Regions from separate parts of the Homo sapiens genome. Here region 2 is linked to region 1. Evidence: fine-mapped expression QTL. A gene starts in region 1. The other region holds a variant in brackets. All regions are shown on one strand. Distances are from middle to middle. Region 1 holds the start of UICLM (up-regulated in colorectal cancer liver metastasis). Region 2 overlaps CROCC2 (ciliary rootlet coiled-coil, rootletin family member 2).

Region 1 (8,329 bases):
GCGAGCTGCGGGCCACCATCTGCAGGGCCGAACAGGAGAAGGCCAGGTATGGCGGCCACCCAGGAGCAGCTGGGGGTGCCCTGCAGCCTGCTGCCCACCCAGGCCGTAGGGAGGATGGGGCAAGGGGGCTAGGCAGGGGCGTCCTGTTGACTTGGGCCCCACTGATGGTGGGGTAGACATGCCAAGCAGGCCTCCCGCTGCCCAGTCCAAGAGGTCTGCAATGCTGGCCAGTGCGAGGGATGGCTGAGGACATGGACACACCTGTCCCTGCCCACAGGGAGTTCCCATCCAGCAGGCAAGATAGGTCACAGGTGGCCTCCAGGAGGTGGTGCAGAGCTGGGGAGCAGAGGGAGGCCAACGGCCTGGCTGGGGCTCTAGAAAGGCCCCTGTGGGGCAGCTGGGCAGGATGGCACAGCCCTCACAGCAGGTGGCAGAGGTACCAGGCTAGGCTGGATGTTGAGCGTCCGGGAGTGTGACAGAGAGGGGGAGACAGGGAGGGATGAGGTGAGGAGGGGCTGAAGAGGTGGATAGTGGACAGGGGCCATGCGGCCGGCACCGGGACCTGGGTGGACATATGTCTGTAAGGTGACAGGGAACCCTGCAGAGGCTGAGTTTGAGGACACTGTGCAGAGTCAAGACTGGGGCCAGTGCCTCACTAGGGGAGGCAGAGACCTGCTGGGCAGCTGTGCTGGCCCCACCAGGAGGTGCGGGGGCCCCAGCCTGTGGCACCCTCGTCAGTTTTAAGCGGTCCAAGGAGGAGAAGGAGCAGAAGCTGCTCATCCTGGAGGAGGCCCAGGCGGCGTTGCAGCAGGAGGCCAGTGCACTGCGGGCCCACCTGTGGGAGCTGGAGCAGGCAGGGGGGGACGCCCGTCAGGAGCTCCGGGAACTCCACAGACAGGTAGGGCGGCAGGGAGGGGTCAACATCCAACCAGGCACCCTCCCGCCTGGTGGGTCCCGGCTCCTCCCAGGGGAGCCCCCAGCCCTGGCCTTGCTGCCGCCTTTGAACCACTCTGTCCCCAGACTTTGGGCCACGCCCTGCTCAGGCTCACAGGGTCCCTGGTTGGGTCTGTCCCCATGGGGCACAGATGACAAGACTGGAGAGGGCAAAACCAGGAATGCTTTAGCGAGGAGGAAGGGAACCATGCCCAGCAGCACACGGAAGTATCCTACATGCAACACCTTCCGGCATGCACAGCAGCACACGGAAGTATCCTACATGCAACACCTTCCGGTGGCGCTCGGGAACTCAGGCAGGCTAGAGGGGAGGCCTGGCCTCTGCAGGGCAGGGTGCTGGCAAGCCGGGTCCCCCCAAGGCCTGGCTCCCTCCTGTAATGGCGGCCTCGGGGCAGTTGGGTCCAATGCACCCCAGCCACTGCCCACACTCCCTAATCAGTGCCCACCCCGCCCCACCTGAGCCTCCTCCTTGTCCCAGGTCCTCCAAGGAGGTTCCGAGGAGGTCCCAGGTAGGTGTCTACAGAGTGGCTGAGGGTGACAACTCCCAGGGCAAGGTCCTTTGGGGCACCTTAGCCCAAGCCTCCCTAAGTGTGGCCAGCTGCCCTCAAGGGACGTGTGAGCGGAGGCAGGAGGCAGGGAGGCTGCCTGGGTTCCAGCACAGAGACCAGTGACCCTGTCCGTGCGGCCCCACGCTCCCAGGTGAGGACACTGAAGGCCGAGAACCAGAGGAGGAGTGGAGAGGCCCATGAGCTGCAGGCGCAGTGCTCGCAGGAGGTGCTGGAGCTGCGGAGGCAGGCAGCCAAGGCAGAGGCCAAGCACGAGGGTGCCCGGAAGGAGGTGGGAGGGCTGCCTGTGGTCAGAAGGGAAGGAGCTGGGCGTCGGGGAGCAGAGGGAGGAGGCCCACCCCACTTCCTCACTGTCTCCCACGGGCGCACCCCAACATCCCTCCTACAGGTCCTGGGATTGCAGAGGAAGTTGGCAGAGGTGGAGGCCGCAGGGGAGGCCCATGGACAGCGGCTCCAGGAGCACCTCCGTGAGAGCCGGGGGGCTGAGCAGACCCTCCGAGCAGAGCTGCACAGTGTCACCAGGAAGCTGCAGGAAGCCAGTGGTGTGGCTGATGCTCTCCAGGCTCGCCTGGACCAGGCCTGTCACCGAATCCACAGCCTGGAGCAGGAGCTGGCCCAGGCTGAGGGTGCAAGGCAGGATGCGGAGGCCCAGCTGGGCCGGCTGTGCTCCACGCTCCGCCGTGGCCTGGGGCTCCAGAGACAGAGCCCGTGGGCCTCCCCGGAGCAGCCTGGTTCCCCCACCAAAGGTCAGAGTCCTCAGTGGAGGCAGGCGGGCCCCTCTCCCAGCTCAGTCCCTGGCCTGGCACCTCTCTTTCAGGCCTCACAACTCACACAGTGAGGGACTCGGACAGGCAATTGTAGGAACCTGTGGCCGTCTCCCCAACCTCCCATGGCTGGGGCAGCAGAGAGGAAAGGGGAAGGGCGTGTATCTGTCACTGTGTTCCTGTCCACGACCCCTCCGCTGTCACCTCCCGCAGGCTCCGACAGCTCCCAGGCTCTCCCTGGGCAACAGGGTACCAGCCCCCCAGCCAGGCCCCACTCGCCCCTCCGATGGCCCTCGCCCACACCCGGAGGCCGCAGCTCAGAGCTCATGGATGTGGCCACCGTGCAGGACATCCTGCGGGACTTTGTGCAGAAGCTCCGGGAAGCCCAGCGGGAGCGGGTAATGGGGGCTGGGGTCCTCCCGCCCACGGCGGCACCCCCCGGGGGTCTCTGGGAAGAACACCTGCTGTCCATCCATCCGCGCGTCCCTGGGTCTGAGGGTCAGTGTCCAGGCCGTCCTGTTTGTTGTGATAAACACCAGCACCACCATGGCCCCCAAGCCCAAGTGCCTTGGGTGGCTGGAGGCCGCCCCCTTCCTTATACCAGGCTGAAAAGCCCCTGGAGCCAGGCCCTGCTGTGACACCCACCAGGGCCCAGGGTAGGGCATTCTGCAACTCATGCCACCCCTGAAGAGCTGCCGGGGCTGGGCAACTGCAGGACAGAGCCAGCAAGCTCCCCTCAATGCTCCCAAAGACCCCTCCGGTGGGGCCAAGCTCCCCAGTGGCTGCTCCTGGCTTCAGGGCTCCCACAGAACCACCCGTGAGCGGCCCCCTCCCACCTCGCTGGATGACTCCAGTGGGCAGGACTGTGGGAAAGACAGAGGCAGGCCCTGAGCCCTGGCCAGGGTCCTCTGTGCACACTCCTTCCCTTCGGGCCCACCCTCCCACCGCTGCCAGCCCCAGGGGGCAGGGTCCCGTCTGCACTCAGCCCCAAGTCCCGCCAGGGGCAGCCCCTACCGGTCCCCCTGACCACAGGCTGTGGGCCGCCACCTGCCAGCTCTCCCACACCACACCTGTGCTTGAAACCTGGACCCTTTAGGCCGAGTCTCACTGGGCGCCTCCACCTCCCCAGGCCTGCAGGTCAGCGCAGCTTCCCAGTGTGATCACCTTCCCCGCACCTTCCCCGAGCCCACGGCCCACACCACCCACTGCCCTGCCCTGCACACCTGCAGGCCAGACCGTGAGCGGCCCCAGCTGGCCCCGACCCTCTAGCAGACACCTTGGCCCTCCACCCGCCCATTGGACTGCCCCCGCTGACCTCAGTCCTTCTGCCCAGGATGACTCCCGCATCCAGATGGCGACCCTGAGCAGCCGGCTGAGCGAGGCAGAGTGCAGGTGTGCCCGGGCCCAGAGCCGCGTGGGGCAGCTGCAGAAAGCCCTGGCTGAGGCGGAAGAAGGTGACCTCCCTTGCCCTGCCCCGCCCACCCTGGGAGTGGCTGTGAGAGTGGCACCACCATGTCCCCACTGCTGCCGGCTATAAGCTTTCAGTCCCTGGGGCAGCTCGGTGGGAAGGGAGCCTGGGGGCAACACCCAAACCACCAGGCCTGGCGAGGCTGGGTCAGCGCTTGGCATCGGAGTTCTCAGCAGCGACTTCCCCAGCACAGAGGAGTGACGTCCACAGGCCCATCAGGGCCCTCCCGATCCGGCCCCCAGCATCCTCTGCCCCCCTGCCCCACCCTGGCCTCCTGCAGTTCCCACTGGGGGCCTTTGCCCTGGCTGTGCCCTCTGCCTGGCACCCTCTCCCCCAGACAGCCACACGGCTCTCCCCGGGCAGGCCCTGCCCCTCGTCACCCCCTCAGAGAGGCCCCTTCCTTCTGCCCCCCACTGCCTCACACTCACGAGTTTCTCTGCTTATTGCCCCTCAATTAAAGGAAAGAGGCAGGAGGGAAGGATGGGTGGGAAGCCGGGACCCTGGGGCAGCCCCAGGACCCTTGAGCTGCAAGGATGGACCCCCACCTCCACGTGGGAGCCAGTCACTCAAGTCCACAGAGCCCTGCATTGCCTGCCTGTGACCTGGGAGGGGCATGGGGGCCCCTCAAGCCACCCTGCTTGCCCCACAGGCCAGCGCCGGGTGGAGGGCGCGCTGAGCAGCGCCCGGGCAGCACGTGCCCTGCAGAAGGAGGCGCTCCGCAGGCTGGAGTTGGAGCACCTGGCGAGCGTGCGTGCGGCAGGCCAGGAGAAGCGGCGGCTGCAGGTGGGGCAGGCGGCAGGGTGGGTCCCAGGTGGGGCACAAGAACAAGGCCTCTCGGTCACCCTCACACCCTGCAGGGAGGCCACAGGGCCGGGAGGTGGGAGAGAGGGGTCTGCAAGGGCTTCTGTGGGTGTTCGGGGCTGGAGCCAGCCCGGTGGGGCCCTGGGGCAGAGGTGCAGGCTGGGCTGTGGCAGGCGGCTTTGGGGTCATCGGGACTGGGGTCGTCCTTAGCAGAGCTGTCCTTACGGTGGTTCTAGCCCTTGTTTTACAGGTTGGGGAAACTGAGGACTTGGCCCTGGGGGCACAGCGAGTGGGGGGCAGAGCCCCAAGTCTAGGCCCTTTCTTCTTGCTGAGGCCACAGCGGCAGGCATGGGGCGGCCCTGGCCCAGCCTTGGGGCTCTTTATAGGGTCACACTGTCCTGCTCCAAGACCACTTTTCATTCCATGTGGCTCAGACACAGAAGGGGCCTCTCAGGAAGGGCTGAAGTCAGTGTCCCTACATGCCAGGCTTTGTGCTGGGGAGGTGCCCGCTGGGTCTGAGGTTTTCAGGTGAGGAGCCTGGGCCTGGAAATGGAACGGCCAGGCAGTGGTGGATGGAGGCCTGGCCCAGGCCTTGGTCCTCAGTGCTGGTGGGGAGCCCCAGGCCCAGCCAGCCCAGCCCCACAGGTCCAAGCAGCCCCCGGGGTGTCCTGAGATCCTCTTGTCAGGACTGGGCCAGGGGACAACTGTTCCGCTCCAGAGAGCTCCCTTGCAGGCCCCAGGGGCCAGAGAACAGCGTGCCTGGCTGAGGCTCCCCAGGGCAACTGCCCCCAGGCGTCCCTCAACCCATTCTGGAAAGAGGGGGCCAGCACAGTGCAGAGGAGACAGGGCACAGAGACCGGGGAGCCACTCCTCTCCAAGTGTCCCTCCAATGAGGGAGGCCTGGGTGAGCCATCAGGAGGGACGGCCTTGCAGGTTGGCAGAAAGGCCCCAAGGGCAGCCGGCCAGGCCTGTGCTGTTCCACGCGGGGCTCAGCCCCGGAGCCTGGTGGCCCTCAGAGGCCACCAGAGGGCTGTCAGCACTCAGACTAGCAGGCAGGCTCTGAGTTCCCAGTAGGCCCTGAGCCTCTGAGGAGGTGGCTTCTGCAGGGGAGAGGGGAGGGGGCAGAGAGCAGAGGCCAGGCTGCAGAGAGAGCAAGGTCCTCATTAGCCAGCAGTTTGGAAATTTCTGTTTTGGAAAGACCCTTCTGGTGACAGCTGCTGGGGCAGTAAGACTAGAGACGTCTGTGGAAAGACCCAGGCGGCCTGGCCAGGGATGGGGTCAGGACTTGTGAGATGCCCAGGAGATGGGGGCACCTGAGAAGTCAGGGGACCTGGAGCGGGCTGAGTTGGGCCAAGTTTCATTTTATGTGTATAGTCACATGTATGTCTCCCACATGCATGCAGAAATAACGTGCTCTGCTCACAGGTTACACATTTTGAAAGAGACCTTCTATTTTATTTTATTTTTTGAGATGGAGTCTCATTCTGTCACCCAGGCTGGAGTGCAGTGGCACCATCTTGGCTCACAGCAACCTCCGCCTCCCAGGTTCAAGTGATTCTCCTGCCTCAGCTTCCCAAGTAGTCGGGATTACAGGCACCCGCCAATACACCTAATTTTTTTGTATTTTTAGTAGAGACAGGTTTCACACCATGTTGGCCAGACTGGTCTTGAACTCCTGACCTTAAATGATCTGCCTGCCTCAGCTTCCCAAAGTGCTGGGATTACAGGTGTGAGCCACCGTGCCCAGTTCTGAAATACACCTTTTAAATCAACCTTTACAAATGCATTATTCAAATAGGCCACATTTGATCCAGTTCCTGAATTTATCAAAACTAAGGATGATGTGTTGAATTTTCCCACTACAATTCTTTTTGTCAATGTCTCCTTTTATTTCCAAGGGTATTTGACTTCTAGATTTCTTGACTCTTCGAATTTGAAGTTTCTCGGTTAACTTTTCCTGAGTGGCCTGCATGTCCTGTGACTGCTGTTTGTCTTCCTCTTGGCCTCTGCTTTTTTGGTGTTTGTGGTTTCAGCCTTCATTTCATCAGCCTGGCTCTGGTTTCAATCTCACCTTAGAGTCTCTGCCTCTTCTGGGGGAATTTGTCCCATGTAGAAGTTTTGTGGTAACCCATGCTCTGTTTTTCCTTAGGTTGTTCATAGGACACTTTCTCCTTTCCGTGTGTCTTTCCTGCCTGTCCTGTCTTGCATGGCAGGGATGATTTATTCATCCTCTTTTCCCTTAGCATTTGCATCCAGGGCATCTTATGGCTGGGCCAGGACAGCGCCCTGCCCCCTCCAGGGGCCGAGGGTCTTGTCCCTTCCCTTCCCAGCTGCACTGCTTCCACCTGCGCCCTAGGAGCTAAGACTTTTGCTCCTTAGAATTTCCTGCTCTGGACAATCCCCTCTTCCAAACCTGCTCCCCAGGGGGGCTCTGGGCTCTCCTGCCTGTAGGTTGAACTTCTCTTGGTGTCTGTGGACCCCAGGGCTCTCTACCCACAGCAGCCCACACCTGGTGCACTACTTTTTGCAACAAATTACTGATGACTTAACCCCACTTTTGAGCCCCCAGTCCCATAGGTGAGAAGCCTGGCATGGTGTGACTGGCGTCTCCCCTCTGGGTCTCACAGTCATGGGGTAGGCTGGGCCACCCGAGGCCACGGGGAAGAGTCCTCCTCTGGGTTCATCCAGGTGCTTCTGGGGGCATCCGGGCTCATCCCAGCGTGGCGAGTCCAGCTCTTTGCGTTGTCGGGCTGAGCCTCATTTCTGTGCGGTCGGCCAAGGGCTCCCCACTCCTAGCCAGGGGCTTCCTTGGCTGTGCCACAGTGTGGCAGCAGCACCTGCACCCCACGCCCCCCATCTCCACGTGCCTCACACCTCATGGCTCCCTTCTGCCGACACCCGAGGGTGTGCGTGAGTGGGTGAGACCCACCTGGGTGGTCACCCTTTGCTTAACTCAGAGTCAACTCTTCACATCCACAAAGTCCCCTGGCCATGAATCCAACGTAATCACAGGATAACGTCAGGGCCAGAGCTCACAGGGCCCTCTGAGGGCTCTGCCTGCCACGTGGGTCCGAGCAACATGTTACCAGCTTTGGTGAACTCCATGCCGCTGGTTTGATGGGTGGGGCCGCTCATGGCATCTCTCCTGGAGGGGCCTGGCTTTCATTCGATTCCAGGCTCCTTGTTTGCCTCTGACCTTGAGTTCAGATGGGTTCAAGAAATGTGCGGATTCCCTGGGTTCTTTGTGTTTTTCTTGTCAGTGCTCTTTCCAGAGTGGCAGCCAGAGGCCTCCTTGTTTTTGAAATTCAAAAATGTCACCAAAATGTGGGCGTGTCGGCCCCTTTCATTATTTTTACCTACCCCGGCAAACCCTCCCTACTTGCAGAATCAAATCTACCTTCTGTTTACAGAGGTTCCTTCCACTGTAAAAAAAACATCTCTTCTCCTTCTCCCTCTTCTCTGTTCTTTTGTCCTGGAATTCTCAGCATCCCAATACTGATCCCCTGGACCTGTCCTCCTGGCTTCAATCTTGAATTTCTCCTTGTCATCTCGGTTTTCCCCAAGGTCCCAGGAGAATTTCAGGTCTTACTCCTACTCAGCTAATCTCAGGATCTGCCGCATCTCGTCTGCTGCTCCTGTCCCCACGGTGGCCTCGTTCGGCCTGAGTTTTCATTTTGGATTGTCCACCTCAAGACCCCTGCCCTGTCCTCACCTTGAGAACACTAGTTACCATCTTCTGGTGTGTGTCAGTAGCTCACTTCTCTGTTTAATTAGAG
Region 2 (8,329 bases), 28 kb before region 1:
TTTGTTGAGGAAGCTCAACTCACTGGAGAAAAAAACAGTCTTGGTTTTTTCCAATCCTGCCTCGTTCATCCGTGTGAAAACCCTGTCCATGCTGAGTTTCAGGCCCCTGTGACTCAGATTCCGCAGCCCCCGTCACATTCAGGACAGCTCAACCCTCCTTCCGTTTTCAGATTCTGCCTTGTCCTTTTCTGGGGTCACCTTTTTCCTCTTTTTCTATTGACATTTAATAAGTCAGTGTACAGTATCAATGAATTTTGACAATTGTACAAAGCCAGGTAGCCGCCACCAGGATCAAGACACAGAACATTTTTGTCAGTCCAGCAGGTTCCCCCACGTGCCTTCAGCCATTGCCCAAAGCCCCCGGCTCCCACCCAGGTGACCTCTGCTCTGATGTGCAGCACCACGGACTGGATGCACCTGTTTCCGAATTCCTTATAAATGGAGCCATGCAGTGTGGACGCTTTTGTGTCCAGCTTCTCTCTCTCAGCATCATGTCTTGGAGATCCATACATGTTGTTCAGTGTATCACTAAGCCCTTTCTTTTTAACTGCATAGTTATATTCCTTGGGATGAGTAAACCACATCTGCTTACTCATCCACCTGTTGCTGGACATTTGGATTGTCCAGCAACAATGTTTCCAATACTGGTCCTGCCTACAAGGTCCTTCCTTGACCCTGCCTACAAAGGGCACTTTTACATATCACTGGGACCAGCACCCAGGTGATGTGAATTCTCTGCCTGAACCCTGCCTACAAAGAGCATTGTGGCTTATGTCTAGGTCCATTATGTAAGTGATGTGACTCCCTTCTACTGCCTTGGCCCTGTACTTATGTTGCATTGTGTGACACACACTTGGTGATATGGTTTAGATTTGTGTCCCCACCCAAATCTCATGTCAAATTGGAGGAGGGGCCTGCTGGGAGGCGACTGATATGGGACTGTGATGCACAAGGCTGCTATAAACCTTCTTGTACAAGTCGCATACATATATTTTTATTTTTCCTAACTAAATACTTAGGACCAAAACTGTGCACTCACTGTATAGGTGTGTGTTGAACTTTTATAGGGAACAACCAAGCAGCTTTCCGAAAAAGCAGGCAGCTTTCCAAAAGTGGTTCAATCACTTTGCTGCAGCCAGCAGTGTAGAAGAGTTCCAGTTGCTCCTCTGCCTTCTCGACATTTGGTATTGTCTGTTTTTTTGGGTTTTGTTTTTTGTTTTTTTAGCTATTCTGTATATGTGAAGTGATACATCACTGAGGATTTCATTTGCATTTCCCTCATAACTGAAGATATTGAACACATTTTCATGCATGTATTGGATATTCGTATGCTTTATTTTATCAAATGTTCAAATCTTTTTCCTATTTTTTAAACTGGGCTTTTGCATTTTGGTTATGAATATACAGGAATTTATATATCATGGATACAAGTACCTTGTCAGATACATGTCCTATGACTATTTTCCCCAAGGTTGTGGCTGCCTGTACATTTTCTCAATGATATTTTTTATGGATGGACATAAAATTTTAACTTTGGCAAACTCCAATTTATCTATTTCTTTTTTTAGTTTTACAATTAGTATTTTCTAGGTTCTGTCTGAAAAATTTTTGCCTACCCCAAGGACAAGAAGATATCCTCCTACATTTTCATCTGGCTTTCACATTTGGATCTATGATCCATTTCAAGTTTATTTTTATGGACAGCAGGGGTTCTCCACGTGTGCTTCCCAGACTAGCAGCATAAACATCACCAGGTGATATGGTTTGAATCTGTCTCCCCACTTAAATCTCATGTCAAATTGGAGGAGGGGCCTGGTGGGAGGTGATTTGTTCATGGGGCCAGATTTCTCCCTTGCTGTTCTCTTGATGTTGAGTGAGTTCACACAAGATCTGATGGTTTAAAAGTGTGTGGCACTTCTCCCTTCACTCCCTCTCTCCTGCCACCATGTGAAGAAGGTGCTTGCTTCTCCCTTCACCTTCCGCCATGATTGTAAGTTTCCTGAGGTCTCCCAGTCATGCTTTCTATTAAGCCTGTGAACTGTGAGTCTGTTAAATCTCTTTTCTTCATAAATTACCCAGTCTCAGGTAGTTCTTTACAGCAGGGTGAGAACAGACTGATACACCTGGGGACTTGGTAAAAATGCAAATGCTCATGCCTCACACAAGACTTACTGAATCAGAAACTCTGTGGGCGGGGCCCAGAAATCTGGATTTTAATTAGCCCTCCTTGGGATCCTGCTGCACACTAACGTGTGAGGACCACATGTGTATGGTATGATGTAAGAACTAAGGTCCATTATTTTTCATACTAATACCCAGTTTTTCCAGCACCATTTTTTTCAAGTCTCTCCTTTGGTCCTTGATTAAATGTGGCAACTTGTTGAAAATAAACGGATCATATATGTGGGATTTGTTGATCTGTGCAAGTCAATCTATTCATTCTTTCACCAAAACCACACTGTCTTGATTATGATAGCTTTTTAGTAAGTCTTGAAATTGAGTAGTGTACACACATCCACCTTGTTCTTTTTCAAGATCGTTTTGGCTGTTCTAAATCCTTTGCATATGCATATACATTTTAGAATCATCTTGTCAATTTCTTCTTCCCTCCCCTGCAAAATAGCCTACTAGGAGTTTGATTAAAATTGTTTAGAATTTATAGATCAACTTGAGGAAATGGACATCTTAAATATACTGAATATTACATCCATGAATATGGTATATCTCTCCATGTCTTTACTTTCTTTCTCTCAGCCATGTTTGTAGTTTTCAATGTAGAGTTTTCTTCCACATCTTTGATTAGGTTAATTCTAGATTTTTATATCATGAATTATATTACGGTTTTAATGTCATTTTCTTATTGTTCATTATTATAGAAATACAATTTCATATGTTTATTTTGAGTCATGTGACCTTGACAAATTCACTTATAAGTACTAAGGTTGTATGTTTATATAATTATTCATCTGTAACAATAGTTTTACTTTTTTTCTGATCTGAATATCTTTTATTTCTTCTTCTTATCTTATTGCACTAAGACCTGCAGAACAAAGTTGAATATAAGTGGTGAGAGTGGCCATACTTCCACCCAAGGCAATCATGGGGAAATAATTTGATGTTTCACCATTAAATATGATGTTATCTGTAGGCTTTTCATAGATGCCCTTTATCAGAGTAAGGAAGTTCCCTTCATTCCTAGTATGCTGACATTTTTAAAAAATTATAAATGGGTACTGGGTTCTGCTAAATTCTTTTTCTGGAACTATTAAGATGATCACATCATTGTTCTCCTCATGTTGTTAATGTAGTGAATTACACTGATTAATTTTTTAGATGTTAAACTTGCATACATAATAAGCCCTACTTTGTCGTGAGTTAGTATCCATTTTATATATTTTTTATTCAACTTATAAATATTTTGTTAAAGATTTTTGCATCTATATTTGTGAGTAATATTTCTGTAATTTTCTTTCCTTG[G/A]AATCATCAGATTTGGAATCAGAGTTGTGCTCCTAAAATACACTGGAAAGTAGTCTCTCTTCCTCTGTTTCCTGAAAGTGTGTGTGTAAAATTGGTATTACTTATTTCTTAAATGTTTGGCAGAATTCACTAATGAAATAATGTGAGTCTGGGGTTTTCTTTGTGAGAAAGCATTTGATAATGAATTCAATTTCTTTAACAGATATAAAATCTATTACAATTTCTTATTAGTTTTTATTTATGTTTCTTCATCTGCATCCTAATAATTTTGCATGTTGTGTTTTTATTATTAGTCAATTCAAACTATTTTCTCTTTCCCCATGTGATTTATTCTTTGCCCCGTGGATTATTTGGACATATATGGCCTAACTTCCAAATAGGGTTTTCTAAATGTCTAATTGTTATCAATTTCTAACATAATTCCATCACGATCGGAGGACATACTCTGTATTATTTGAATGGATTTAAATGTATTATGTCCCAGTCTGTTGTCTATCTTGAACACATCAAAAGAATGTGTATTATGCTATTGCTGAGTGCATTGTTCTATAAATATAAATTAAATCAAGTTGCTTAGTAGTGCTGTTTAAATCTTCTAAGTCCTTACTGGGGTTTTTTTGTGTGTTGATTTATTTCTTTGATTGGTTGTTTTTGTCTACTTGCTGCATCAGTCAGTGACAGAAGGGCATTACAATCTCTAGCTGTGATAATGGAATTGTCTGTTTCTTCCACTAGATCTCCCCTTAGTTTCTTCCACAGCCAATTTTTGCTTCATGTGTTTTGAATTTCTATTATTAGGTGTATATATATTTAGTATTTTATTTCTTCATGAGGAATTGGTATTTTATCATTATAAAACATCTCCTCTTATCTCTAGCAATACTCTTTTTTGATATCTACTTTTTTGATATCTACTTTTTTGATACTGATATAGCCACTTCCATTTTCTTATGCTTAGTGTTTCCGTGGTATATCCTTTTCATATATTTACCTTCAACTTGTCTATGTCTGCTTATTTAAAGTGTGTGCCACCATGATCAAGTGGGTTTCATACCAGGGATGCAGGGATGGTTTAACATACATAAGTCAATAAATATGATATACCACATAAACAGAATTAAAAACAAAAATCACATGATCATCTCAATAGACGCAGAAAAAGCGTTTGACAAAATCCAGCATCCCTTTATGATTAAAACCCTCAGGAAAGTCGGCATTGAAGGGACATACCTTAAGGTAATAAAAGCCATCTATGACAAACCCATAGCCAACATTACAGTGAATGGGGAAAAGTTGAAAGCATTCACCCTGAGAACTGGAAGAAGACAAGGATGCCCACTCTTACCACTTCTATTCAACACAGAACTGGAATTCTTAGCCGGAGCAATCAGACAAGAGAAAGAAATAAAAGGCATCCAAATCAGTAAAGAGGAAGTCAAACTCTCACTGTTTTCCGATGATATAATCATATACCTAAAGACTCCTCCCAAAACCTCCTAGATCTGGTAAATGAATTCAGCAAAGTTTCGGGATACAAAATTAGTGTACACAAATCAGTAGCTCTGCTGTACACCAACAGGGACTAAGCTGAGAATCAAATCAAGAATTCAACCCCTTTCACAATAGATGCAAAAAAAAATACTTAGGAATATGCCTAACCAAGGATGTGAAAGACTTCTACAAGGAAAACTACAAAACACTGCTGAAAGAAATCATAGACGACACAAACAAATGGAAACACATCCTATGCTCATGGACGAGTAGAATCAATATTGTGGAAATGGCCATACTGCCAAAATCAATACACAAATTCAATGCAATTCCCATCAAAATATCATCACCATTCTTCACAGAACTAGAAAAAAATCCTAAATTTCATATGGAACCAAAAAAGAAGCCACAGAGCCAAAGCAAGAACATGCAAAAAGCAAATCTGGAGGCATCACATTACCCAACTTCAAACTATACTATAAGGTAACAGTTACCAAAACAGCATGGTACTGGTATAAAAATAGGCACATAGACCAATGAAACAGAATAGAGAACCCAGAAATAAACCCAAATACTTACAGTCAACTGATGTTCGACAAAACAATCAAAAACATAAAGTAAAGAAAGGACACTCTATTCAAGAAATGGTGCTGGGATAATTGTCAAGCCACATGTAGAAGAATGAAACTGTGTTTCTTTTTGTTAGTTTTAGTGATTACCCTAAAATTATGATATGCACAGTCTATATCCAAATATTATATTACTTCACAAACAATGTAAGACCCTTCCAGCAATACATTCCATTCATCCCTTGCTATGTTTCGAATGTGTCCCCTCCAAAATGTAGGTGTTGAAACTTACTAATTGTGATAGTATTAAGAGATGGGACCTTTAAGAGGTGATTTAGGCCATAAGGGTTCCACCCTCATCAGCGAGATTAAAGCCTTTATGAAAGGGGCTTGCAGCATCATTTGTGTCTCACTTTCCCTTATGCCTTCCACCATGTGAAGGTGCAGCATTCTTCTCATCCGGAAAATGCAGCATCAAGGCACAGCCTTGGAAGCAGAGAGTAGTCCTTGATAGACAGCTGAACCTGCCAGCACCTTGATTTTGGACTTCCCAGTCTCTAGAACTGTGAGAAGATAAATTAATAAATTTCTGTTCTTTATAAATTACCCAGTCTCAGGTACTTTGTTATAGCAGCACAAATTTACTAAGACATCTCTTCCATACTTTTTGCTCTTGTTGTTCTATATTTTATTTCTGTGTGTGTTGTTATAAACCGTACATTACTTTATTAATACTTTTTACTTTTAAATGATTATTTTTAACCATTCACACACACACACTCAATCATCTTTTCACAAACATTTCAGTTATTTGGTAACATTCTTTTCCTTCTTGAGTATGTTTTTAAACATATTAATTACAATACTTTTTGGGTCTTTGTCTGATAACTCTAACATCTGGATCCCCTAATGAGCTATTTCTATTGTCTTTTATTTATTTATTTTCAGTAGTTTGGCCTTGTCTCCTAGTATGCTTAATATTGTTTGTTTTTTTATTATGCTTAATAATTTTTGATTGAATGACAGACTTTGTGTTTTTGTAGATATAATTCATAGAGATAATTTAAGGCTTTGAATGATATAAGCTTCTTCTAGAGGGAATTTGCTTTTGACTTTGGGAAATCAGAATAGGGATAAATTGCCTTTATCCAGTCCAGGATTTAGCTGCTTTGTAACTGTACTTCAGTCTTTTGTGAGGAGTCGTCTATTTCTGGCTTATCCCAGGGTATAATATAACTCTCCTATGTTCCTAATGGGAAATCTCAGGTGTTTACCAGGGTTCCTACTCTTTAGTTAGCCCTAAACTCCAGGTTTTATTTTCTTTTTATTTATTGTCTTTTTTTTATTATCTTTATTTCAGATAGGACTTTCAAAAGTACTATCTGACTTCTCAGACTGTCAGCTGCTATTTTTTTGTTCAGATTCGTAGTCTCCTGGTCCTTTACTACTTCTGAATTATAAAAAATACATACTTTTTCAAAGCAGTACCATTTATTTTATTTTCTGAGACAGGGTCTTTGTTGCCCAGGCTGGAGTGCAGTGGCATGACCATGGTTCACTGCAGCCTCGACCTTCTGGGCTCAAGTGATCCTCCCACATCAGCCTCCCGAGTAGCTGGGACTACAGGCACACATGACCACGCCCAGCTAATTTTTGTGTTTTTTGTAGAAATGGGGTTTTGCCATGTTGCCCAGGCTGGTCTCAAACTCCTGGGTTCAAGTGATCCACCTGCCTCAGCCTCCCAAAGTGCTGGGATTTTGCGCTCAGCCAGCAGTACCATTTTTTAAAATCGCAATATACAATCTCAGGCTTACCTCAAGGCATTTCCTTGCTCTCTGATATCCGCTCTTCTTTTCGTTCCCCGGCTGCTTTGGTATATCTGAACTCTAAGTTATATCTCTTCAATCTCATAAGCCTGCTGAAATCTTAGGCCATGTTCCCAGTCTTTTAGCTAAAGCTTTTTTTTTTTTTTTTTAATTTTTAAGCAGAGTCTTGCTCTGTCGCCCAGGATGGAGTGCAATGGGGTGATCTCGGCTCACTGCAACCTCCGCCTCCTGGGTTCAAGCAATTCTCCTGCCTCAGCCTCCTGAGTAGCTGGGATTACAGGCATATGCCCGGCTAATTTTTGTATTTTTAGTAGAGATGGGGTTTCGCCATGTTGGCCAGGTTGGTCTCGAACTCCCGAGCTCAGGTGATCTGCCCACCTCGGCCTCCCTAAGTGCTGGGATTACAGGCATTAGCCACCAAGCCCGGCCTAAAGCTTTATTCTTGGATACTGAGGCTCTACACCCCCTGTCACTTAGGACTTGGCAGATACCTCAAAGGGGAAATCTGTTGTATTCATAGAATTTCAGACTCACTTTAATATATTTCTCTCTGTAGCCTGAACACCTGGGACCTGACTGCGTTAGTATCTCTCTAATGCTTTTAAACAGATTATTGGATTGTACGTTGTATTGCTTTTCTAGTTGCTTTAGATGGGAGGGTTGGTTTTCAACAACCCACCTCACCATTATCAGAAGCAGAAAGTCCTGGTTTTTACTTTTGAAGAATGTTTTCGCTGGGTATAGAATACTAAAATAGCCATTATTTTCTTTCAGAAATTTAATGAAGTCATTCCATCATCTTCTGGCCTTCATTGTTGCATAGAAAGCAAATGTCAGTCTTGTTCATTTCACGCCTATGTGTCTTTTTCCCTTTGTTTTTTAAAAAACATTTTTCTTTATCTTTGGTATTCAGAAACTTTACTAAGTTGTATATATGTGACATTTTCTTTTAATTTATCCTTTTGG

What was found.
Region 2: its variant is fine-mapped to the expression of UICLM in whole blood (TOPMed, PIP above 0.99). The same link has a PIP of 0.9 or more in blood mononuclear cells.

The regions. Positions count from the first base shown.
Region 1 is chr2:240,963,728-240,972,056 of GRCh38, forward strand. UICLM (up-regulated in colorectal cancer liver metastasis) reads right to left here and starts at 3,724. Exons shown (of 9, transcript NR_033841.1): 1 at 3,600-3,724; 2 at 262-449; 3 at 1-19. CROCC2 (ciliary rootlet coiled-coil, rootletin family member 2) reads left to right here. Exons shown (of 32, transcript NM_001351305.2): 21 at 1-46; 22 at 739-898; 23 at 1,654-1,791; 24 at 1,909-2,266; 25 at 2,498-2,682; 26 at 3,618-3,738; 27 at 4,402-4,535.
Region 2 is chr2:240,935,988-240,944,316 of GRCh38, forward strand. All of the region lies in intron 14 of CROCC2 (ciliary rootlet coiled-coil, rootletin family member 2), which reads left to right. Among named protein-coding and RNA genes, the nearest start is that of UICLM, 27 kb to the right of the region's middle. The variant G/A (reference allele first, on the strand shown) is at 3,478.